3 separate regions of the Homo sapiens genome follow, and regions 1 and 2 are each linked to region 3. Evidence: fine-mapped expression QTL. A gene starts in region 3. Each other region holds a variant in brackets. All regions are shown on one strand. Distances are from middle to middle. Region 1 has its middle 260 kb from the start of LINC00692. Region 2 overlaps NGLY1 (N-glycanase 1). Region 3 holds the start of NGLY1 (N-glycanase 1).

Region 1 (10,904 bases), 350 kb before region 3:
AAAACCATCACATCTGGTGAGATTTATTCACTATCATGAGAATAGCACAAGAAAGACTTGCCCCCATGATTCAGTTACCTCCCACTGGGTCCCTCCCACAACATGCAGGAATTCAAGATGAGATTTGGATGGGGACACAGCCAAACCGTATCAGTGCCCAAATTTCTTCCAAAATGATTGATGTTGTTTTCTTTTTTAACATCTTTATTAAGGTACATTTGACAAATAAAAATTGCATATATTTAAGTGTACAACTTGATGCTTTGATATATGTATATATTGTGAAATGATTACTACATCCAAGCTAATTAACATATCCAATATCTCACAAAATTAACATTTTCTGTGTGTGTGTCTGTGTGTGTGTGTAAAACACTTAATATCTACCTTCTTTGCAAATTTCAAGTGTCAAACTGTTCACCTTGTGAAACTGGAACTTCATACCCTTTGACCAACATCATCTCATTTTCCCTTCCTTCCAGGCCTTAATAACTACCACTCTACCCTCTGCTTCTATGAGTTTGACTATTTCCTATTCTGAATATATGTAAGATCATGCAATATTTGTCTTTCTGTGTTTGGCTTATTTTACTTAGTATATTGTCCTCCAGATTCATCCATTTTGTCAAAAGTTGCAAGATTTCCTTATTTTTAAGGCTGAATAATCTTCCATTGTATGTATACGTGTGTGTGTGTGTGTATGTATATATACCATGTTCTATTTCATTAGTCTATACATCTGTTTTTGGTTTGTTTTTGCCACTACCGTACTGTTTTGATTACTGTAGCTTTGTAATATATTTCAAAATCAGGAAATATATGCCTCCACCATCATTCTTCTTGCTCAAAACTGCTTTGGCTATTTGGGGTCTTTTGTAGTGTCATGCAAATTGTAGAATTATTTTTCCATTTCTGAAAAGAAAGCCACTGTGATTTTAATAGGGATTACACTGAATCTGTAGATCACTTTGGGTAAAGTGATGGTTAATATCGCATGTCAACTTGATTGGATTGAAAGATGTGAAGTATTGTTCCTGGGTGTGTCTGTGAGGATGTTGCCAAAGGAGATTAACATTTGACTCTGTTAAATCTCCTTGGACTGGGAAAGCTCCAGCTCCAGGAAGGTGCAGCAAGATGGAGTTTAGGTGGCTTCAACAGCTGGGATCTAATCAGCAAAGACTGCAGGGGTCCTGGATGGTTAAGGCCATGGGTCCACAGCCAGCAGCAAGGACTGCCAGGATTATTAACGGCAAAGGCTACTGGGATTCCTCCTGCTCGCCTTTTCCCCCACAACGGGAACTCAAAGCCAAGGGGATTTTTCTCGGTGCTTAGCTCTGCCAGCCTGGAGGATGGAGTGACATGGGTAAAATGAACCTCTTTTCCTACTCTTTTCTATGAGTTATGAAACTGGAGCTTGCCTTTATCATATCAGCCTTTCCTTTTCCCTTGTTATACTAGAAGAGGTCTGGATATGATATCTTGAGATTTTATGCACTATGACTTTTTTTTCACAAGTAGAGGCTAAAATTCTCAGCAAATATTAATTTTTGATATAGTGAAGAGAAATTGCTCAATATAGCAGTATTGTCAAATGGCTAGGAGCTTGGCTCTGCACTTGGCCTCCATGGGTTCAAATCTGTATTATCTTACTTCTTAGCAGTGAAAGATTATTTCATCCTTCTTGCCTTCGTATTTTTATCTGTAAAATAGGGATCACATTATTGTCTTTTGGGCTCATTGAGAGCATCGAATGAAAATGCTTATAGGCCAGGCATGGTGGCTCATGCCTGTAATCCCAGCACTTTGGGAGGCTGAGGCAGGTGGATCATGAGGTTAGGAGTTCAAGACCAGCCTGGCCAATATAGTGAAACCGCATCTCTACTAAAAATACAAAAATTAGCTGGGCGTGGTGGTGCGTGCCTATAGTTCCAGCTGCTCGGGAGCCTGAGGCAGGAGAATCACTTGAATCCACGAGGCAGAGGTTGAAGTGAGCCAAGATTGCACCACTGCACTCCAGCCTGGGTGACAGAGTGAGACTCTGTTTCAAAAAAAAAAAAAAAAAAAGAGAAAGAGAAGAAAAAAAAGAAAATGCTTGTAAAATCTTATCATAATGGATGGCACATAACACGTGCTTGTATTAGTCCATTTTGATACTGCTATAAAAAAAATACCCAAGACTGGATAATTTATAAAGAAAAGAGGTTTAATTGACTCACAGTTCCAAATGGCTGGGGAGGCCTCGGGGAACTGACAATTATGGCAGAAGGTGAAGGAGAAGCAAAGGCATGTCTTACATGACGGCAGACCAGAGACAGCAAACAAAGGAGGAGCTGCCAAATACTGTTAAAACCCTCAGCTCTCGAAGGAACTCCCTCACTACCATGAGAACAGCATGGGAGAAACTGCCCCTATGATCCAATCACCTCCTACCAGGTACCTCCCTCAATATGTGGGGATTACAATTCGAAATGAGATTTTGGTTGAGATACAGAGCCAAACCATATCAGTGCTCAATAATTGTTTTTAAATTATGAAGTGGGTGTTCTGTGTATTTTGTGAGGTGCCTTAAACACATGAGCATAGAACAGAGAATTTGAAAACAGAAATTGAGTTTTCTCCATTACTAAATACTAAGAAAATTGTGTTAGGATTAGAAGGGCAAGGTGGGGAAGAGGGTGAATGCAAGAGTGAAACCTGACCTCAAGTTAGCTCAGCCAGATGCAGTATGGGCTTATTGTCACCCATCATCATCAACAAGTACCCCAAGTGTTCCTTGAGGGGTATATGTTACCCACAAAATAGAAACATGGAAACACCACTCCAAAAACGCACAAATGTCTTTACAGTGCTAGAAACAAATTCAGTGGAATGCAGTCCACCACAAGGGAAGTCTGTAACACTCAGTTCATTCTCCTTTCCAGATTAATCAAGGAGTCTTGCAACCAGTAACAGCTTCCTTAAAAGAGTGCAAGATTCCACATTTTACTTACTTCCATCCATGAAGTCATTCTTCCAAGTTTGGCACCAGGGGCAGGGGTGGAAGGGGATTTATTCTAAACTTTCCTAATGAAAGAGAAGAGAGATAAATTTTGCATTAACATTAAAGACAAAATAAACATTAAAGACTATAAGGGTAAATTGTTATGTAGCAATCCAATATTATGAGTCATATTTAAGTTTCTTTGCTATTTCAACTGAATCATTTTATTTATTTATATATATATATACATACACACACACACATATTCCTTAACTTAACTACCTTGTCTAAGCAATTGATAGACACAAGGACTTCAGTAGAAGTTGCTATACCTTTTGCCTCATCTACAAAGAAATGATTCATTTATATAATTTTTGTTCTTTAATGGAGACCAATACATTATCAAGCCACTCCTATTAGGACAGAATGTTTTTAATATGAAGACTAGCTAATGACACAGCAGGAAACAACAAAAGACAAGTTCTTTTTTTTGCTCTGTTTCCATTTATATTTCTCACGCTAATGTTTAAATCCACCAAATTACCTTTATTACAGGCTTTTTTGAATCTGATAAACTGTATTCTCCTGTGTTACACCAGAGCTTGCAAACCAAGGCTATCAATTATTTCCAAGAGATAATAATATTGCTGATAATAATAGACTTTAATTTGACAAATAATTAGCTTTACATCCAGAAATGGGTAATATAGCACTACATTAAAAGGAAAATATTCTTCTGTGGATATTAGCGGTATTTCTTTAGTCACATGCAACAACACGCATATCATTAATTTTATTATTCCTTCAAGAGAGAGTGTCTCAATTATTAAAAAAACCTTTAAGCTAAGAATTTGCCTACCTAACTGATAATTTTAAACTGAAACTATTTTCCCACAGGTTAAGGTAAGAAGTCCTAAAAATCAATCTTCTTTATAACCTTTGGTACCCTTTATGACCTTGATCCTGCCTATCTTTTTAGTCTTGTATCTTTCATTTCTTCTCCTTGTGTTTCCTGCATTGCCATTTTAGGTTCCTCAGACAAGTAATTGTTCCCTTCCATTGTGAAGATTGTGCACACACTCCTCCCTCTACCTGAAGCACTTGCTTCCGCCACAAATCCTTCCCCTATCCTGCAAAACATTAGCTCTGGCTTTATGCCCTTACATAACTTTATATGTCTACATAGTATAAATATCTATTTGTATAGTTATTTTATTGTCTATCTTTCTCATAACTCTGACAGTTCTATGGGAAAATGAGTCTCGTCTGTTTATCTTATTATTGTAGACCCAGCATCTAACATGGTGCTTGATACACATAACAGAAGATCAATAAATACTTGTTGAATAAATATATGGCTTCATTTTCTATAAAAGTGATCGACAGTCTGGCATTTTCCCAGATTGGGAGCTGATCAACACTATGCTAGATATATTAGCCTTAGCAAAAAAAAAAAAAAAAAAAAAAAAGGAACAGGCTACAAATTGATATTTATTAAGTCTATGAAGTAATTTATCATATGCTTACTGCTTTCACTCCCCTGATAAGTTTATCTTTTGTGTAATGATGTAAATTTGGGAGGGGGACCATGGGGTCAGAATTCTATGCATCCTATTTCAAGTGGTGTACTAATATAATTAGCTATTCTGCAGGCCATTAACTTCTGTAATGATGTCTACAATAAAGCAGAATATGAAGTTGAAATGGGAAGAAAAGAATCAGTTTACATACTCACTGATACTCTGAATACTATTTTGACTCCGAGGAACTCTTAGTGCAAAATTTAACAGAGAATCTCCAGAAGACAGTCTGCCCTCAGCAACTATCCATCCAACCCTGTGGCTCCTGAAGTCTCTTTGACAAGTAGTAAAAGTTGTCAATCTGTGATCTACCATTTTTGGTAGACCTGCCTCCTCATGCAAGAGCAGGAAGCATAAAAAGCTTTCATTAAGCTCATATCATCCAAAAACACATACAAACTTTTTCCCATTGTCTTAAAATAGCTGTCAAACTCCTCTGCAGTTCTTTTCTTCTACCACAAAATGAAATTATAGCTACTAACCTTAAAGGAATGTTTCTAATGTACAATGAATCAAAAGAGCTGAGAAACCATGTACATGTGTTATTACAGAAATGTCTAAAATGATTAAGAAGGAATTTGTTTCAGCTTCACAAATCTTCACAGCTTTCCAACATCAAGGAAAAGTTAGGAAAAAATAAAATACTTCATGACATTTCTCAGAAAATAAAATAGAACATAAATTTAAAAGAAATAAAAGAGTGTTGCCAAGAAAAATGTAGAGCAAAAGATTTAAAATAGAACTCCTGAAACTTAAAAACAAATCTTTTGTATGCCTTGGTAACAGTAATGATGATATTCAAAAATGACTAATTATAGAGCCAGTACTCAAATAATGTGAGTACCAAACAAAGCATTCAGGGGTAATGTCACGTATTAATGGAGGCACAACTTAATCTGGGATAGAATGTTTCTTTTTAAGAGTAAAGTTCTATAGGAATATCAATTTCATGTCTCATCAAGACAATTGTCCTCTC[CTCT/T]TTTTATTCTTAGCTTTATTTATTGTAAACAATGCCAAAATGAAGCAGCACACTAGTAAATGTTGTTTTCATTTTTTTGTTGTTGAATTTGTTGTCTTCTCCTGGCTAATACATAATTTAGTTCAAATCTTCACACAAACTTAATTTGTAGGGATGTATGCTTTTTCAAATACACAGTTTTGGTTCTCTCTTTGTCTGAATTGAATACTTTGGCAACATCCTTGGGAAATTTAGTCTTTGGTTTGAGATGCTGACCTACAGTACAAATCAGGCCAGTAAACCATTGGCTACTGGTTTGTATTCACCTAAGGAAGCAGAATCATCATCAATCACAAAGAATTCTTCATTTTCTTGAAACAAGTTATGCAAGCAAGAATATTCCTGTTTTGCATGTGACAAGATTCACACTGAACTCAGCATTCCTAAACCTAGGATATAGACTGTTGGTCAGCTTCCTACTTTGCACTTAAATTCAACTTTCTCCCACCTGATCATAATCAAGCTCTCCCTAAACACAGAGATAGATCTTGATTCCCAGGCTAAGAGCCAGCCTTTCTTCTTGGCCAAGTCTTTTTCTCTTTGGTGAGAGGTTCTTGAACTCTAAACCCATCTGCTTAGAGTTCTTGGGAAGAGAGGAAAAAGAATAAGGAAGACCTTCAGCCTGAAAGGTAATACCACAAGAAGGTAACTCAAATCCATAAGAAAAAATAAAGAACACTGAAATGGCAATTATGCAGGTTAATATAAAACTCTAAAAGCATTTTTTTACATTTCTTCCCTTAATTTATTTAAAAGACATAAGACTGTATAAAGCAATAATTATACAATCTATTATTAAGTTGATAACATATATAAAAATATGTAACAATAATAGCACAAAGGAGTGGGAGAGAATAGAGCTATATTGAAGCAAAATTTCTGTATTTTACAAATATTAAGCTAGTATTATTCTAGAGGAAATTGTCATCAATTAAAATGCATTTTATAATTTCCTAGATTGACCATTGAGAGAATAACTCAAAAACTAGTTTTAAAAATCAAAAGAGCAATTAAAGTAGCATACTAAAAGTATTGTCTTAACAGAAAAGAAGCAATAAAGGAATAGAGAAATAAACAAATAGAAAATTCAACAGTGAAAGTTGGAGGACTCAATACCAAAGATTCAATAATTGATAGAACCACTATATTAAAAAAAATCAGTAAAGATATACAAGACTTGAACAATACTATCAACCAACTCAAACTAATTTAGGTAGAATGGTCCACTCATTGAATGCAGAATGCATGCTCTTTTTAAGTGCACGTGGAATATTTTTCAGGATGAGATCATATGGTAAGCCATAAAACAAATCTCAACACACTTAAAAATATTGAATTCATACAGTGTATTTTCAACCAAAATGGAATTTAGAAATAAACAACTAAAAGGAATATGGGAAATCCTTAAGTACTTGGAAATTAAACAATACACTTCTAAATTCTAAAAATGAAACTAAAAGTTTTTGAAAAGATCAACAAAATTGGCAAATCTTTAACCAGACTAACCAATAAAAAGAGAGTGAGACAGACAAAGACAAAGGAGGCACAAGTTGCCAAATTCAAGTCACAGAAGAAACCACAGGGTAAATTAGGAAAGGCTTTGCATGAATGAAAACAAACAGAAAAACCCCACAATATATCAAAATTTATGATGTACAGCTAAGCAGTGTTTAGAAAGACATTTACAGCTTTAAAGGCATATATTGGAAAAGAAGAAAGGTCTCAAATCAATAACCTATGCTTCTACCTTAAGAGCATAGTAAAAGAAGAGCAAACTAACCCCAAAGCAAACAGAGGATAGAAATAAAGGTTAGAGCACAAATCAATGAACTACAAAACAAAAACAAAAGGAAAATAAGGCAATAAAACTAAAAGTTGTTTCTTTCAAAATATCAACAAAATTGGCAAATATTTAACTGAACTAACCAAAGGAAAACATGAAAACATAATTTATCAAATTCAGGAATGAAAGTGGAAATATTACAACCAATGCTACAGAAATGAAAACATTATAAGGGAATTTATAAACAACTATGCCAAAAAATAAGACAAATGAGATGAAATGGACAATTTCTAGAAACAAGATTTGAATAGACCTCACACACACACACACACACACACACACACACACACACAAACGATCACTATGCATATAAAAACATGTTTAGCATCATTAGCCATTAGGAAAACACAAATTAAAACTACGATAAGATACCATTATGTACTCACTAGAATGACTATAATCAAAAAGAAAGGTGTTTCAAAGTGTAGGAAAAGATGTGAAGGACCCAGGGTCTTCATTTACTGCTGGTGGGAAGGTAAATAATACAGCCATTTTGCAAAATATAGTTTCTCATGAAATTAAATATACACTTAACATTTGGCCCAGCAATTTTATTTCTTGGAATCCACCCAAAAGAAACAAAAATACATGTCCACACAAAGATTTGTAAGTGAATGTTTATAGCAGTATCATCCATGATAGCCCAAAATTGCAAAGCATCCAAATCTGCATTAAATGGCAAATAAATGAACAAAATGTGATATATGCATACAATGGAGCACTATCGAACAAAAAAAAGAAATGAAGTCTTGATACATACTATGGCATTTTCAACCTTAAAAGTGTCATACTAATTAAAAGAGACCTTATTCAAAACACTACATATTGTATGATTCTACATATACAAAATATCCAGAAACAGTAAATTTATATACAGAGAAAGCAGGCCAGTGGTTTCCTAGAGCTGGGTGTGAGATAGGGGATTATCTTCAAATGGGAAGGAGATAACATTTTGGCGTTCTGTAAATGTTCTAAAACTAGATTGTGGTGATTGCTGCACAAATGTAAATTTTACTTTAAAAAAATCACTGAATTGTATACTTATAATGGGTGAATTTTATGGTATCTAAATTATACCCCAGTAAAGCTGGGATTTTTTAACGGTTAATAATTATATGAAAGGAAAATACGAATGGCTCTGTTTGGATGAAAATGCTTGATATCTAATAAAAATAGAAATTCAAATTAAAAGTATAATGAGATACAGTTTTTACAACTCAGGTTTGCTAAGATTAAAAAGTTTGTAACACACCTAATTGATAATAATATGGGCATCCTTATTAATGTCTGGGAGGAATATATGTTGGCATTTTCTCAATGAGAAGCAGTTTTGCTTTATCTATTGAAAATTAAGATTGCATGTTTCTTGATTCGGTAATTACTTTCCTACTCCCACTGACACTAAGTGATAAATTTAAATCATTTTTGCTATAAGCAAAATATTGCAAACAATCTAAAAGTTCATCAATAAAAGACTAAGATAGATTATGATATAACCAATGAATGAAATCTGATGCAGATGTAAAAATATACAGCTCCAAAACTGTCTCTATTTGCAGAGGATATGATCTTACACATAGAAAACCCTAAATATTACCTGCATACACACAACCTGTTAGAACTAATAAATGACTTCCGTAAAGTAGCAGGATATAAAGCCAATACAAATAAAATCAGTTGCATTTCTGTACTCTTAACAATAAACAATCAGAAAAAAATTACAAAAATTTTTATTTACAATAGCATCAAAAAATACTAAGGAATAAAAACTACGATACAAAGAAGGTAAAAGACTTGTACAATGAAAACAACAAAACATTGCTGAAAGAAATTTTAAAAGACATAGATGAATGGAAATACATATCATGTTCATGAATTGGAAGAATTAACATTGTTAAAATGTCATAATAACCAAAGTGATCTACAGAATCAATGCAATGGCTATCAAAATCCCAGTGACATTTTTGCAAAGATAGAAAAACTCATCCTAAAATTCACATGGCATCTCAAGCAACCCCAAATATCAAAAATGATCTTGTAAAAGAAGAGGGATGTTAATAATGAGGGAGACTACACATGTGTGGGGCAAGGGGTACATGGGAAATGTCTTGTATCTTCCCCTCAATTTTGTTGTGTAACTAAAACTGATCTAAAAAGTAAAGTTAATTTTAAAAAATAACAAACTACTATGCTGAAGTACTCACATTTCTTGATTTCAGAATTTACTATAAATCTATTACAAAGTAAGGTCCATTCCAAGATATCCAAATAGGAATAGCTCCAGTTTGCAGCTCCCAGCGTGACTGATGCAGAAGATGGGTGATTTCTGCATTTCCAACTGAGGAACCTAGTTCATCTCATTGGGACTGGTTGGACAGTGGGTGCAGCCCATAGAGGGTGAGACGAAGCAGAGCGGGGTGTCACCTCACCCAGGAAGTGCCTTTCCTAGCCAAGGGAAACCATGACAGACTGTACCTGGAAAAATGGGACACTGTCGCCCAAATACTGAGCTGTTCCCAAGGTCTTAGCAACCGGCAGACAAGAAGATTCTCTCCTGTGCCTGGCTCAGTGGGTCCCATGCCCAGGGAGCCTTGCTCACTGCTAGCGCAGCAGTCTGAGATCGAACTGTGAGGCAGCAGCCTGGCTAGGGGAGGGCGTCTGCCATTGCTGAGGCTTGAGTCAGTAAACAAAGCAGCCGGGAAGCTCGAACTGGGCAGAACCCACCACAGCTCAGCGAGGCCTACTGCCTCTATAGACTCCACTTCTGTGAGCAGGGCATAGCTAAACAAAAGGCAGTAGACAACTTCTGCACACCTAAATGTCCCTGTCTGACAGCTCTGAAGAGAGCACTGGTTCTCCCACCACAGTGTCTGAGCTCGGGGAATGGACAGACTGCCTCTCCAAGTGGCTTCCTGACCCCCGTGTAGCCTAACTGGCAGACACCTCCCAGTAGGGGCTGACAGACACCTCACATAGGCAGGTGCCCCTCTGGGATGAAGTTTCCAGAGGAAGGTTCAGGCAGCAATATTTGCTGTTCTGCAGCCTCCACTGGTGATACCCAGGCAAACCGGGTCTGGAGTGGACCTCCAGCAAAACCCAACAGAACTGCAGCTGAGGGACCTGACTGTTAGAAGGAAAACTATCAAACAGAAAGGAATAGCATCAACATCAACAAAAAGGATATCTATACCAAAGCTCCATCTGTAGGTCACCAACATCAAAGACCAAAGGTAGATAAAACCACAAAGACGGGGAGAAACCAGAGCAGAAAAGCTGAAAATTCTAAAAACCAGAGCACCTCTTCTCCTCCAAAGGACTGCAACTCCTCACGAGCAACAGAACAAAGCTGGACGGAGAATGACTTTGACGAGTTGACAGAAGTAGGCTTCAGAATGTCAGTAATAACAAACTGCTCCAAGCTAAAGGAGCGTGTTCAAACCCATCACAAGGAAGCTAAAAGCCTTGAAAAAAGGTTAGACGAAT
Region 2 (10,245 bases), 40 kb after region 3:
CTATGACTCAGTTTCTTCATGTAGAAATAAGAATGATAATTTTTAGAAATAAATGAAAAAATACATGTAAAAGCTGGGCATGATGTACTGGATAATAGGAACTGAGGTAAACAGGCCTTTCATGTAAGGTTTTATGCTAATCTAGCTAGGAATTAATCTAACTAGAGTTGTTTTCTTGTTTGCTTTAGCCGTAGGTATCAGAGGCTTCAAATTCCTCCAGTGTTCTTGTCGTCTCCCCCATTGTCTTTAGGCTTCCCTAAGAACTCCTCATTAGAGTCTGCATTTATCCTGCTTGGTGTTCGTTTAGTTGTAATCCATTGTTATTATACTGGAGCCCTATTGGTGTGATGGTAAGGTATCAAGGAGAAGGTTCTATAATCTTTTGATTAAATCTCAGTATTTTAGTGGGCCTATATCTCTGGGCCTGTGCCTTTCACAAGTGTTTGTTAGCCTTTTTACCCCCATAGGTGAGACAGGAAGGCTACAAGGGGCTGGAGTCAGGGAAATATATGTCCTTCCCCCAGTTCAGAGAAGACTCTGGTAAAATCTTTTTCCCTGGAGAGGCCTTAATTGTGAAGAACACTCTGGGTATACCTCACAATTCTTACTCTTCCCATCTTTTCTAGAGCCACAAAGGATTTTTCTTGGTTCTTCATTGTGAAAACCTGGTGGGCTTCCTGCAGACAAAATGCACAGAAGTGTGGGGACCTCTCCCAAGACTGAATTTCTTACTCCCAAGCTAGTCCATACTCAGCTTCCAGCAGTTTGTCAAAATTGCTATTTAAATGTCCTTACCAGTTTATGGCTCTAGTGACTTCTTTTCCATGTAAGCAGATTTTGACTGTGATTCTCTATATTTGTGTATCTTTTTGGACTTTGGGGTGATAATTCACTCTGTGACCTCAGTTCTCTAATGGGTCCAAGAAAAGTCACTGATTTCAGTTGAGCTTTTTATTGTTTTAAAGGTGAGAGTATTGACCTCTGCTTGCTAGAAACTGGAAGATGAAACCAGAAATCCATCTGAAGGCTTAACTATATGTGTCTCTTCCTTTTTTAACCATTTGACCAATTTTCACAAATGTCATTTATATATTTTGCTACCCTTTGTATTTTGGTAATTTTTGTCTTTTTAAAAATATTACACTATGCCATTTTTCAATTTTTGATGACTGGCTTGGGCCTTAGATTTACTTCTGCTACAGGCCTGCTAACCTTAAGACAGTTGTTCTCTTCTTGTATTAACAGTTTTTTTCCTGTGTGTACAATAAGAATGTTTATTAATATGTGATTATACAGGCCCTGTCCAGCTTCAAAGTACTGTGGTCCTTTATATGATGACTTATAGAAATGCCTGTTTATCAGGTACTTACTGAACATGTTTTGTGTTTGAGTCATTGGGCTGGGCCCTGCAGGGGAGAGACAGGATAATAATATAGCCTTGCCTTAAGAAGCAGCTAAATAGAAGATGAGAATTCAAATATACAGATCAACTGAGTGTAAAGCAGAGTCCAACAAATGTAATGTATGAAGTATAATTTTTAAAACATTATGTTGTAGACCAGCTTGGCCAACATGGTGAAACCCCGTCTGTACTAAAAATGCAAAAATTAGCCGGGCTAATTTGCAGTTGCAGATGCCCATAATCCCAGCTACTCGGGAGTCTGAAGCAGGAGAATCGCTTGAAACCGGAAGGCGGAGGTTGCAGTGAGTAGAGATTGCACCACTGCACTGCAGCCTGGGCAAAAGAGCGAAACTCCGTCTCAAAAAATAAAAAATAAAACCATTATGTTGCTAAATGAATAAACTTCAGTGAGAAATAGCATAGAGACAGAATGTTCCTGTTTGTGTCCATCATATTTCCTCTCTCTAGGCAAATAACAACCAGGAAATTGCTCAAGGAGCAAAAATCTACAATAAAGAGCATTAGTTAGGTGAACATTATGTTTATCCTGATGCATTTGTCCATCTGTCCTCACAGTGGGAATGGTCTTATCAGTGGACCAAGAATCCTTCAAGTCTATTAGCTAAGACTTAAAGTCCATTTCCCATAAAAATCTGCTGATGTTCCCTGCTAACATTTGCTCCAGCATTTTTTCTTTCTAATTATAAAGGTAATACAGGGGTTGTAGAAAATTTGGAAAATAGGGAGAAGACAAACTATCAATAACTTCATCACATTGGAGTATGTGTATTTAAGATCTGTGTATATATTCTTTCACGCTTAAAAAGTTTTAATTAAAATAGGAAAGAAATGACACAGCAGATTAGTAGTGAAAATTATGAAAATCAGTAAAAGATTTTTTTTTAAGGGCATGAAGGATGAGTGGGATTTATAAAATATGTCAAAATACATACTAAGGGATTGGGGATTTTCTTCCAAGTGTAGTGATCAACATGCATAGAGGCAGAGAAGGACAGGCTCTATTTGGGAACAATGAATAATACAGTTAGACTGTGTGTAGGGTAGGGTGTATATAAAGCAGTGGAAGATCAAGTAGGCTGAAACCATATTTTGGTTGACATTGAATTTCAGACAGAGCAGTGTATACCAAGTTCATTTTTAATGTTTTCAAAAAAATTAGTAAAATGAAACAAAGCATATTTCTAATAAGGTTTGAAATAGTAAAGACCAAAGAAATTCAAAGGAAACACGTCTTGGCCGAAAGACTAATGTTATATTGTGACTATAATTGAACATACAGCAGAAATGTTACATAACCTTATTCATCAGAAAGCAGAAAATAATTTCTCAGGTGTTCTCGAATAGGTAATTCAGCAGGATTGACTATTGAAACTCTGAGTGACATCAGACTGTATTTAAGGAAGATTAATCTAGTAATAACTTGTGAAATGAATTAAAATCAAAAGAGTACAAGGAGAGAAAAATTAAAACACAATAGTAATCTAATTTACATAAGAGGGATAAGAGGGTGAACAGAGGGTTGAGATTACAAGGGAGAAGATGGATGTGAAAGTTGTTGGGGTTATAGAATATGTGGAATTTGCAGTCAATAGGATAAGGCATCATGTATATATAAGGAAGATGTCAAAGATGACTGGGTAACTTTGAATCTAGGCAACTAGGAAATTAAAGGAGTCAGTAGAAACAGGTTTTAAAGGGAAAGGAAGAGTGAGTTGAGGTGCCTACTATCTGGACTGCCAAGTGAAAACATAGGCCTGGAAATTCGATAAGAAGTCAAGCCTTGAAATACACTTCAGGATGATAGGTAAAGCCATGCAGGTAAATGAGATTGCTAAAATTGAGAGGACAGGGTGGAGAGGTAGGATTACAGAGGTTCTAGAAAACAGTGTAGCACTAGCCACATATGGATATTTACATTTAAATTAAATGAGATGAAAAATCAAGTTCTTCAGTCACACTCAGCACATTTCAGCTACTCAATAACCACAAGTTAGTGACAACCCTACTGGACAGTAGGAATAGGAATTATTTCCATTATTGCTGAAAATTCTATTGGATGGCGATATTTTAGAAACAGCAGGATATGGGAAGAGGAAGAGTAACAAGTGAAGGAAACTTATATAGTGAAATAAGTGGTATGGTAGGCATAATGAGTATATCAATTAGGATTAGGTTGTGCTATGAGTAAAATGACTGGTGGCTTAGAGATTATTTTCTCATGTAAGAAATTATGGAAGTAGTCAGTCTGGAGCTAATGGTGAGCTATCATCAAAGACCTAGGTGCCTTCTGTCTTTTCGGCTCGGATGTATATGTTTTCCATCCTTCACATCACCTTGTAGTCCAAAATGGCTGCTGCAGCTCCAGCCATTACATTTCCAGACCAAACATCAGGAAGAAGAAACAGAGAAAAGGCATAAAGGTTTTATCTCTAATTTGAGCTTCTTCTCTTGAAGTAGTCTTCCTTGGAGTAACATGAAGCTTAGTCATTTAGCCACACTTAGCCGCAAGGGAAGTTGGGATCTGTAGTTTTTTAACTGGTGCATTGTCATCCCTCCAAAATTGAAATTCTATAAATGAGGAAGAAGTAGCAAGTGGATATTATATGGCCACCATCAGTCTCTGCCCCAGTGAGTGAATGGCACTGAGATGATGACGAAGCCCCCGCTGGCCAAGTTGGTGATTTTCTTTCATTAGTGCAGTGCACTGTTTTTTCCTTTCCAGACAAAAATCATATTCTGGGTCTATGGACTGGGGAAAGTGTTTTGGTTTGATGCAGAAATGGGGACCTTGTGGCACTGCCAAATGAGATAGAGAAGCATGATTTGATAGCTTTGGCCTGGTAGACTGAAGGTTTGTCATGATTGCATGTTCCAGATACAGGTAAAACATCTTTTTGGAGGAGGAAGAACCCATTTTTGAAAAGTGGTAACAAAATATATCTTGGCCTACTAAATTGTATGTGAAGATATGAGATGGAGAACATGGATGAGGCTACCTCTACTGATGTTTTTACCCATTTTCTCATTCTCTTGTATATTGAAGTGGTTTTCAGAGAATGGAGTTAGGTCTAAACTTGTTGATTTTATTTTGTCACTGATAAGTTACTAGAAATCTACGTTTATATGGTATTTTTGAAGATGGTAACTTTAGAAATTTGAAGTCTTAATTATATTTTTGAAATAAACCCAGTATTCACAGAATTTAGCATCTAAATCAGGCTTCCCTTATCTCTGAGATTTCTGAGCTTTCATCATACAGGAATCTACTTTTATTTCTCTGAGCCCCTAGTTAAGGATATTGTTTAAATGAGGAACATTGACCCTTAATTGGGTGTTACTGTTTAGTAGTCCTACTTTCAGCTGGATTATACCTGGAGTATGTAACAGAAGTACAAATACTCTGTTTTCCTTTCCTTTCTTCTTGGTCTTGATAATGACTATTTGGTGAACAATTACAATTCTAAGTAATATTTTGAGGCATGTTTGTTCAGTCCTTTCATCATTCAAATATTTATTAAGCATCTAGTGTATAGCAAGCAGAACACTAAGTGTTGGGGATATAGCAGTGAACAAAACTAAGTACCTACCATTATGGAAAGAGACACACACACACACTAGTGAAAAGTGCTAGGAAGACCAATGGGAGAACAGAGTGAGTGACGACTAGTAAGATGCTGTTTGATACAAGATTTTCAGGGATGGCTTCTCTAAAAAGCAATGATTTCCCTTTTAGGTAGAAGGCATGAGCAACTGCAAAGGCCTCCTGAGGTGGGAGTGAGGTTGGCAAGTTTAAGAGATGGCAGGGAGAGCATGGTGGCTGTAGCCAGTGAACAAGACAGGAGGAGATAGGGTTTGAGGTCAGAGAGGGAAGAGGGTATTTAAGTTTCCTGGGGCTACTATAACAAATTACCACAAACTTGGTGAAATAAAAAGAAATTTATTCTTACAGTTCCAGAAGGCAGAAATCCAAAATCATTATCACAGCGGGAAATCGAAGTATCCCCAGAGCCATGCTTCTTTTGGAGGGGAGAATCTGTTCTTTGCCTCTTCCAGCTTTTGGTTGCTGCTGGCAGTCCTTGGTTTGTGGCTGCAACAGTCTGGTCTTAAGGCCAGCATCTTCAAATCTCTCTCTGTCCCATCTTCACATTGCCTTCTCTGTGTGTAAAATCTCCATTTACTTGCTTTTTATGAGGTTAATTGTGATTGAATTTATCCACATATTCCAGGATAATCTCCCCATCTAGAGATCCTTAACTTTATAATATCTGCAAAGACCTTTTTTTTTTTTTTTTTTTTTTTTTTGCCACATAAGGTAACTACATTCATAGGCTACAGTGATTAGGACATGGATATCCTCTGAGGGCCATTTTTTAGCCTACGACGGGGAGCCAGCTGAAAGAACAAGAGTTGGGACTTTGAATTTTATTTTGAATGAGATGGAAACCCATTGGAGGGTTTTTTAAGTCACATAATCTGGCCTGTACTTTTAAGAAGATTACTCTAGCTGCTGCATGGTAGGCACTAGACTGAGAAGGAGAATGACAGTCCTCTGTTTCTAAAACTTTGTTTTTAATGTAACTAATTCATGAATATCTTCCTGTTGGAAAGCTTTCATATTATATGGGAAACGCCAAACTCTCCCTGCCATTCAGTTCTGTTCTTTTTCATGTCTTGTCCTGGATATTTATACCTTAAATAATTATCTATAAAAATAGTTTAAGTTGTGTGGGGTTTATTTAAAATTTATCATCTCATATATATTCAGCTCCTTGGTGTTTTTCATTTACAAATATGTATTGGACAGCTTTTTAACTCCATAGTGTTTGATTGTACATACACTATTATTTATACAATTCCCTATTGATGGACATAGAGGTTGTTTCCATTTTCTCTGTTCTAAATGCCACCACAGTGGAGATTCTTGTAAACCATGTCTCCTGGCACACATGCACAAGTATTTCTCTTGGATAGATACTGAAATGTCAAGTGTGTGTAATACTTTTATATTATAATGGATCCTGCCAAATTGCCTTCCAATTTATACTAGAAGTGTCTAAGAATATTTGTTTCCACTTAATGAAAGTATTGAATTTCTTTTATGGACTTTGTGAATTTTTCTAGTGGGTTTCTTAATGTTCTTACTGATTTATAGAAGTTCTTTATGTATTTAGAAATTTATCTTTTTGAGACAGAGTTTTGCTGTTGTCGCCCAGATTGGAGTGCAGTGGCGCGATCTCGGCTCACTGCAACCTCCGCCTCCCAGGTTCAAGTGATTCTCCTGCCTCAGCTTCCTGAGTAGCTGGGATTACAGGTACCTGCCACCACGCC[C/T]GGCTAATTTTTTTTTTCTTTTGTATTTTTAGTAGAGACGGGGTTTCACCATGTTGGGCAGGCTGTTCTCCAACTCCTGACCTCAAGTGATCCTCCCACCTCAGCCTCCTAAAGTGCTGGGATTATAGGCGTGAGCCACCGTGCCCGTCCAGAAATTTATCTTTTCTTTGTTAGACATGTTACAAATTTTTCCTCCCAGAGTTCTTTAGTGTAGCTTTTGAAATTCAAAAGTTTTTATTTTTAACATAAGAAAATTTAATTTTTTTATTATTGATTTTACAGTTTGTATCTTGCTTGCCTAAGACCTTCCTAACCCAAAGTCATAAACATAAACATACTCACCTATAAACTTCTATTATTTTATATTATTCCAGAGAAAGTTTTTTTTTAATGAACTATAGTAGGGATCTGATAGATAGCTATTTGTCCTAATATCATTTATTGAAACAGTCCATCCTGTTAGAGCTGCTTTAAAATGCTAACTTTATTAAATACTGTGCATTTGCTTAGAAATCTGTCTTTCAGAATTCTTTTGTTTCATTGATCTGTTTATTCTTCACTAATACCACATTGTTTTAAATATTAGAGTTTTATAATATGTCTTGATACACGGTAGGCAAATTTACCTTATGATTCTTGCTCAAAGTTGTGTTGGCTATTTTGTGCATTTTCTCTTTCACATGGGATTTTGTAGTTAGCTTGTCAATTTTTTTTTTTTTTTTTTTTTTAATGAGACAGAGTTTCGCTCTGTCACTCAGGCTGGAGTGCAATGGCATGATCTTGGCTCACTGCAACCTCTGCATCCCAGGTTCAGGTGATTCTCCCGCCTCAGCCTCCCAAGTAGCTGGGATCACAGGCACCTACCACCAAACCCAGAAAATTTTTGTAGTTTTTAGTAGAGACGAAGTTTCACCATGTTGGCCAGGCTGGTCTCGAACTCCTGACCTCAGATGATCTGCCTACCTTGGCCTCCCAAAGTGCTGGGATTAGAGCTGTGAGCCGCCACACCTGGCTAGCTTGTCAAATTTTATGAAAAAATATTTTATAATTTTAATTGGGATTATATTAAATTATAGATTAATTTGTGGAAGGTTATCAGCTTTAGAAATATTGAGTTTTCCCTCCAGGAACATAAATATTTCTGGCCTTTTTACATTCTCTGTAGTTTTTTTTTCTGTAGTTTTTTATTTTGAAATACATCAAACATAAATACAAGAACAAAGTATAATATATCATATACCTATGACCAACATCAAGCTTTATTAGATTTTATCATTATGCTATATATGTCCTTCATATTTATGTTTTATTATCACTCTGTTTTAATCATAAAACATTAAAGATAGAGATGAGAACCCCCTATATATGTTTTTAAGATTGATTTTCCCTCTCCTTCCCTTCTTGCCAGAGATACCATGGTCTTGAATATGAACAAGAGAGATCTGTTTATGGAAAAGTGGGTATATTATCTGTCATGTTATAACTTACTAGGGTTGTTATATATACTAGAGATATGGTTGTGTTTTTATGTGTTTGGGGATGAGTATCCATGGATGGATTATATTGTACAGTTGAAGCCCTAATAGAAAGGCTAATAGGATGATTTTTTAAATGTCTGGAATTCTGTGATTTCTGCCTTTTGTGATTGTTTCATGTTTACTTGTGTATATACCTGATAACAAATTCAATGTTTCCCATTTTTAAATGTTTTTCAAAATCAAATTTATTTTTCTACCTCCCTTGTACTTCAGGATCAATTCCTAACTGACTATAGTTCCCTAAGAGGTCATTGTGTTCAGCTCACTTGTTAATGCATAATGTCAGTTAGAGGATATAAAATGGTAAATGTTCTACTGTTTTTAATGTGCAGTTATACTTGTCATTGTATTTCAGCCTAGTGCCTAATAAATGACAGTTTCTTCTTGCCTCTTATTAGTGAAAACCTTAAAATCATCTTATGTTTTCATATTTTTCAGGTTCGTATTTGAGAATAAATATGTTTGGATAGTTTAAATTTTGTCAGTTTTAGCTCTTACTTGGTCCTCCCTTAATTTCTCAGGTATCAATATAAGTGATGAGGATTTTCTTTTGCTGGAGCTTTTGCACTGGTTTAAGGAAGAATTTTTTCACTGGGTGAATAACGTTTTGTGCAGCAAATGTGGTGGACAGACTAGGTCTAGAGATAGATCATTACTGCCCAGTGATGATGAGCTGAAGTGGGGTGCAAAGGAAGTGGAAGATCATTACTGTGATGCCTGCCAGTTCAGCAATCGATTCCCAAGGTGGGTGCCCTGGATGGTAAAATCAGAATAATCTCTTAATGAAATAGTTAGAAGAGAGTTTTTACTAAATGAACTTTTTAATATTTAATTATCAGAAATATATTCCTCTAAAATACCGGTGAGCAAACCGTGGCTGGCAGGCTAAATCCAGCCGACATCCTGTTTTTGTAAGTAAAGTTTTATTAGAACATAACCATGCTGATTTATTTGCTTATGGTCTGTTTTTATGCTGCAACAAGCAGAGTTGAATAATGGTGACAGAAATGATATGACCCACAAAGTCTGAAATATTCACCATCTGTCTTTTATAGGAAATTTGTTGACTCTTGTTCTAAAGTATAACTTGAGTATAGTCATAACATGTTTAATGCTATAAATCTTGTATTACTTTTTTAATTCCTAATTTTTAACTGTCTGATAGCTAACAATACTTATAATAATGCTGAGGTATACTTTTACCTTCCATATTATCATCGGATGATTATTTTAAACACATAATTGTATTCACTCTCACAATAATCAGCATTATTATTATCAGTCTTATTAGCAGAAGTTTGTTTTAGTTAGGTGCTTCCCCTGCCCAACCTAACCTACTCCTCATATCTCTAAATTTTAAACTAAGGACATTTTAAATTTTAAATTAATTTCCATTCTTTAATTTATAAGCCTGTTTTCAGATTTTCTGAATTGGCAATGTTTATAAAGTCTGGTTGTATTATCAGTCAAGGAAAGATACCACGTTTTAAAAATATCTAATTTTTTTTAGCTTAGGACATAGTTTCTAATCATGTGCTTGTTTTAACCTCTAGCTCTTCTCTATATGGGGAGGCTGAGGCAGGAGGATTGCTTGAACCTGGGAGGCAGAGGTTGCAGTGATCCAAGATTGTGCCACTGCGCTCCAGCCTGGGCGACAGAGTGAGACTTGAGACTTTGTCTCAAAAAAAAAAAAAATTTAATTACCTAAGTTATAAATTCATTTATTTAGCTTAAGAAATGCTTGGTTAAGCATTTGCTTAACAGACTTGTCATCGCAGAGCCCATTCATTTATGCCACTGTTTCCTTTCCTTCCAAAGCACGTGGCTGACCTCTCTGCTCAGCTGCAGCACTTTTCCTGCTCAGCTCTATCAGTTCAAAACCCATCTCAACACAAAATGCAAAATTTAGTGTTCTTGAATTGTCTGGTAATTTTATAATTGGAGTAACTTCTGAAA
Region 3 (5,000 bases):
ATTGAAATTCTTGTTCTTTTATTTATTTATTTTTGTTCCAAAATAAAGATTTTTTTTTTCCCCAGGATTTCACCTTTATTAAAAACATCATTTTTAGAGTTGACATATCATGGCGCTATTCTTTTTTTTTTTTGAGGTAGAGTCCCGCTCTGTCACCCAGGCTGGAGTGCAGTAGGGCAACCTCAGCTCACTGCAACCTCTGCCTCCTGGGTTCAAGCGATTCTCCTGCCTCTCAGCCTCCCAAGTAGCTGGGACTCCAGGTGTGCACTAACACGCCTGGCTAACACTATTCTTTAATAAAACAAAAAAGAAAGAACTCTGTAAATTTTCCCCACGATTGGTTTGGTGATATTAAAAAGTTAACCTCCATAAAAACCATTAGCAAGGGGAGGAGTTGAAGTCTTTCAGGAATTTGTATAGTGATTCACTATTGTGTGACTACATTGAGTGATTAACCAACAACTCTATTCAGTACCTGCTGTGTGCAAAGCAGTCTGAGACAGATGGCACAAGAGACTTTTAATCAAATAGGGAAGACAAAACTAATGATAACTTACAGTGAGATAGCGTTTTAGTTGAGGAAACAAACTATTATGAAGAGAAAAACAAAAGTCATTTTGTTCCCCCACAAAAGTACCCTATGACCATTCTATCTGTCAGGGGAAAGCCTTAGCTGACAGCTTTCTGCCCTTCACTTGACACCTCTGCTTCAATACCAGAGCATTTCCACTTTGGTGTTTTGTATATAGACAATCTTCCTATGTTTTTGTTTTTGTTTTTTTTTTGTAGAGATGGGGTCTTGCCATGTTGCCCAGGCTGGTCTTGAACTCCTGGGCTCAAGCGATCCACCTACCTCGGCCTCCCAAAGTATTGGGATTACAGGCGTGAGCCACCATGTCCAGCCCCTAAAATTTTATTTGAAAAAAAAAAAAAAGTTCTGTTGCATTTTTAAAAGTTACAAGTACTGTATAATATATACTATTCTCATATAATTAGTAAAGGATAAATAAATGTATCAATGGAAAAAGAAACCCAAATTAAGAGGAATAAAGTTTGTGATAGCTATATCTCCAGACCCAAGCCCCCAATCCATTGTGTAGTTGGACGAGACTACATTTCCCAGACTCTCCCCTTTTATCTTTTTATGTGTTTTTAAATTTTTTTTTTATTTTTTGTAAATCTGGCCTTACTGAAATACCCCCTTTTATCTTGATGAGGCCTCATTCTTAGTAATGATATGGTAGAGAAAATGCTGTGTGTCATTTCTGGGCTCATGTGGTTAAAAGTAGGTGTGACTTTTTTTTTTTTTTTTTTTTTTTTGTCCAAGCAGGCTGCCTGGATTTGTAAATAAAATTTCACTAGAACATAACCATGCCCATTTATTTTCAAGTATTGTCTGTGGAGCAACAGCTGCAGAGGCAGAGTTAAATAGTTGAGACAGACCTTATGGCTCACAAAGCCTAAAACACTATGTGGCCCTTTACAGAAAATGTTTCTTGACCCCTGTTCTAAGGTATGGAAGGAGACTGGGTCCACTGACATTATGACACCTGCATTATTAAAGTGTTATATGAGCCAGAAAGAAATTACTCTTGTGTTAAGCCCCTGAAAATTTTAGTTACAGACGGTAGTAACATACTACTATCTGTTGAACACACCATACTTGGAAGGTGGTCCAAAGATTTACATATTTATTAAAAGCGTACGTATATTTGGGAGACGAATAGTCATTGAACTGGATGTCATAGCTTAGGGTCTTGTTCGGAGATTCTGGAAGAAAATTTCAATTCTTAAAAGTAAACAGATGAAACATCAAGAAATTTAAAAGAGGTTATTCAGGCAAATCACTTATCTTAAGAAATAAAGTCAAGAAAAATACTTCGTGAGGTTGAAAAGGAATTTCTGCAAAGAAGGAAGCCACTGGTAAAGTACACTTTCAAGAACATGGTGGGGAAGAGACTGGATTAAAGTAGTAAGGGATGCATCTTCTAAGAGGAATAAAAGACCTTGATCACATGATCTACCTAAAAAACAAGTCACAAAATATTACTTACCCTTACTGTGTGGGATGCAAATTTTTATTCCCTTCCCGCCCCCGACATTCTATAATATTGCGTAATTATTATGCATGTGTTTTACGCTGGTCACCACGCGGTAAACCGAATCCACAACCCATTATTATGTCGCAACCTATGGTTTAAAAATACACTTCCTTACAGAGGAATCATATACTAGTTGAGCTGGAACTTAGATTTTCAGTCATTAGCCAAATTCTGAAAAGAATCCATATAACAAACCCAGCAGAGTTTATAGCCATGGTTTTGTTTTTGACGTTTGTTGCTCCTTCCTTCTGTAGTCTTTCATCCACATCTATGTAGAACGTCCTGACAATCTGCGAAGAGAAGGCTCTAAGGTGGTTTTATTTGTGGGGAAAGGAGGGAGGTACATGCGGTTTCTCCACCTTAATAGCTGGATCAATTAGGCTGGCCCCGGAGCGCAAAGGGATCCGGGTTTCTGAGAGGCACGTGCCAGCACCATTCGCCCGATACCTCTAGACCAAAGCCGGCCTCCCCTCCAGCCGAGCTCCTCCGTCCTAAAGGACTCGACATCCCCCTCCTCCAGGCCCACACCCCTCAGCCCCGGAGCCCAGGCCCCGCCTCTCCCTGCGGAACCCCTTCCCAACCTGTACGACCAGGCCCCAACTCTGGGTCGAAGCACCTCGCCCCTGCCGGCCGAGGCCCCCCACCTTCTTCCGAACAGCCCCTTGCCCCCCGCGAAGGGGCAGCCGTAGCTCCCAGCCGAGCTCCCCCGCTCCTGGCCCCGGTCCCCGACCCCGCCCCAGGCCCCCGACCCCGCCCCTGCCGGCCGAAGACCCCGCCCCTGCCGGCCGAGGACCCCGCCCCTGCCGGCCGAGGACCCCGCCCCTGCCGGCCGAGGACCCCGCCCCTGCCGGCCGAGGACCCCGCCCCTGCCGGTGGCTGCGGTAGCTGCTGCGCGCTGAGGCGCCTGCTCAGTGTGGGACGCGGAGAGCGAGGGGCGGCGGCGGCGCCCGCTGGCGCTCAAGCATGGCGGCGGCGGCATTGGGCAGCTCCTCAGGCTCGGCGTCCCCGGCCGTGGCTGAGCTCTGCCAGAACACCCCGGAGACCTTTTTGGAGGCCTCCAAGCTGCTGCTCACCTATGCTGACAACATCCTCAGGTGCAGGGCAACGGGGTCGGACGGCGGGTACCGGGGTGGGTGGGCCGCGGCACCTTGTTCGGCCAGGGACTGGGGCGTCCGGCCTGAGCTTCAGAGGGCAGCGACGCCCGGACAGACCGGGACCTGGAGCTGGTTCTGCTCCTAACGTCCGAGCCCGCCGGCCAGGGGCCTCGGGACCCGGCCAAGTCCCACCCCCGCTCGAGAAAAGGAAGTTTCTTTGCAGTTGTGACTTGGCACCTGCAGTCAGGGTGCTGCGGGTGAACTGGAGTCCCGGAAGCGGGGCCGGGCGGAGGAGAGGTAGGAAGGCGTGCTTCAGACACTGCCGCTCTTCTCGTCGTTTAACGGCCTCAGATATCGGGACACAACGGTAACCGCACCGCGCGTGTCATTCCCCCTGCGTGCATTTTTCGAGCGGAGTGGCTTACATTTCCACATACTTATCAGAAGTTACTCACTGACAAAGTGATGTTTTCTTCCCATGTTGAGACTATCCGAGTACTAAAGCATAATGCTTCTGAAGTGGTGGGTTTTAAAATTTTTAATTTTTTTTCTGCCCACTTTTGTTGATTGAAACATTATAGTATTTTGAAGTTACAGTTTTTATATTAATACCTGGATTCTACTATGTAACATAACCCTTTAAGAATTCGTGGAGGTAATCGCCTTGGATGAGAGTAATTTCCTTCATTCTCCTGTCAGCAAAATTGCACTTCTAGAGGTCTAAGGGACCTTGCAGATTTTGGGAATTGGGAGGCAAGTTTGATTATTCATTTTGAATAAGTACCCACCTCAACTCTTCAGATCAAATGATCTGAAGGGACATGGTGTGGGGGGGTAGGGAAATGGAACTGAGGTTAAAGGAGAGCCACTTGCTTTAGGGGTGTTACCTCATTTATCAGGTCACCGTGATTAATTAGGTTCTCTGTTCCCCTCAGCCCCTGGTGCATTAAGTGTTTGGTATATTGTCATGAAGTCTAAAAGGAAATTCTCAGTTTCAAGGTTATAGGTTTCACGTGACCCAATTTTAGACATTAGTTACATGTGCAGTTTTTAAAATCCATGTCAGTAATATTTCATTTAGGCAATGGTAATGATTTTTAAAGTAAATTGAAGGGAAAATATATTGAGCCCTTATTTTGTGGCAGATGCTATGAAAGATGCAACATGTGGCCTGTTCACAGCTACATAATTGTGACCTGTGTGGGGACCACCTTCGTGCTCTGTGACACCTTCTCAACTCACCTTTTTTACTCTTTGAGGCCTTACAGCTCTTCACAGTACAAGGATGCCAAGGGACTCCATAAATGAACTGATAGGCTGGGTTCTCCAGAGCCCATTAGCTGAGACTTACCACCTGGAAAGCCACCAGGCTATTTAAAACCCCACTAGTCAGAAAAGAGAGGTGGCCTTGTAATGAAGCCTCACTTCTGCTTTAAATCTAGTGAAACCCAAAATGCTGAGGTTTAGTATGAGGGGGAAACCTTTGCATGCAAATAATGACATTTAGCATCATAATCTTCATTATGAATGTTTACTAATGGCTCGTTGCTGATTTTCGTTTTTGAGACGGAGTTTGCTCTTGTTGATGAGGCTGGAGTGCAGTGGCGCGATCTTGACTCACTGCAACCTCCGCCTCACAGCTTCAAGATTCTGAAAGATGAGGGGTGTGACAATGAGCGCAAAGGATAGTGGACACACTGGAATAATGCTGAGAAATTAAGAGTTTAAGAAAGTCTTTGTGCGTTGCTTTTCCAAGGATAGGAAAGAGGATATGATGGGTTTGAAGTCTAATGTCCCTACAGCC

The links. PIP is the estimated chance that this variant, and not a neighbour inherited with it, causes the effect. A credible set is the group of variants that fine-mapping cannot tell apart.
Region 1: its variant is the best candidate, but not a certain one, in a credible set for the expression of NGLY1 in whole blood (INTERVAL, PIP 0.71).
Region 2: its variant is the best candidate, but not a certain one, in a credible set for the expression of NGLY1 in whole blood (TOPMed, PIP 0.86).

The regions. Positions count from the first base shown.
Region 1 is chr3:26,129,384-26,140,287 of GRCh38, reverse strand. No RefSeq gene overlaps it. Among named protein-coding and RNA genes, the nearest start is that of LINC00692, 260 kb to the right of the region's middle. The variant CTCT/T (reference allele first, on the strand shown) is at 5,537.
Region 2 is chr3:25,738,365-25,748,609 of GRCh38, reverse strand. NGLY1 (N-glycanase 1) reads left to right here. Exons shown (of 12, transcript NM_018297.4): 5 at 8,811-9,033. Among named protein-coding and RNA genes, the nearest start is that of NGLY1, 40 kb to the left of the region's middle. The variant C/T (reference allele first, on the strand shown) is at 6,752.
Region 3 is chr3:25,781,456-25,786,455 of GRCh38, reverse strand. NGLY1 (N-glycanase 1) reads left to right here and starts at 3,013. Exons shown (of 12, transcript NM_018297.4): 1 at 3,013-3,196. The coding sequence starts at 3,066. RefSeq lists a silencer at 2,824-3,063 and enhancers at 3,374-3,423, 3,584-3,663.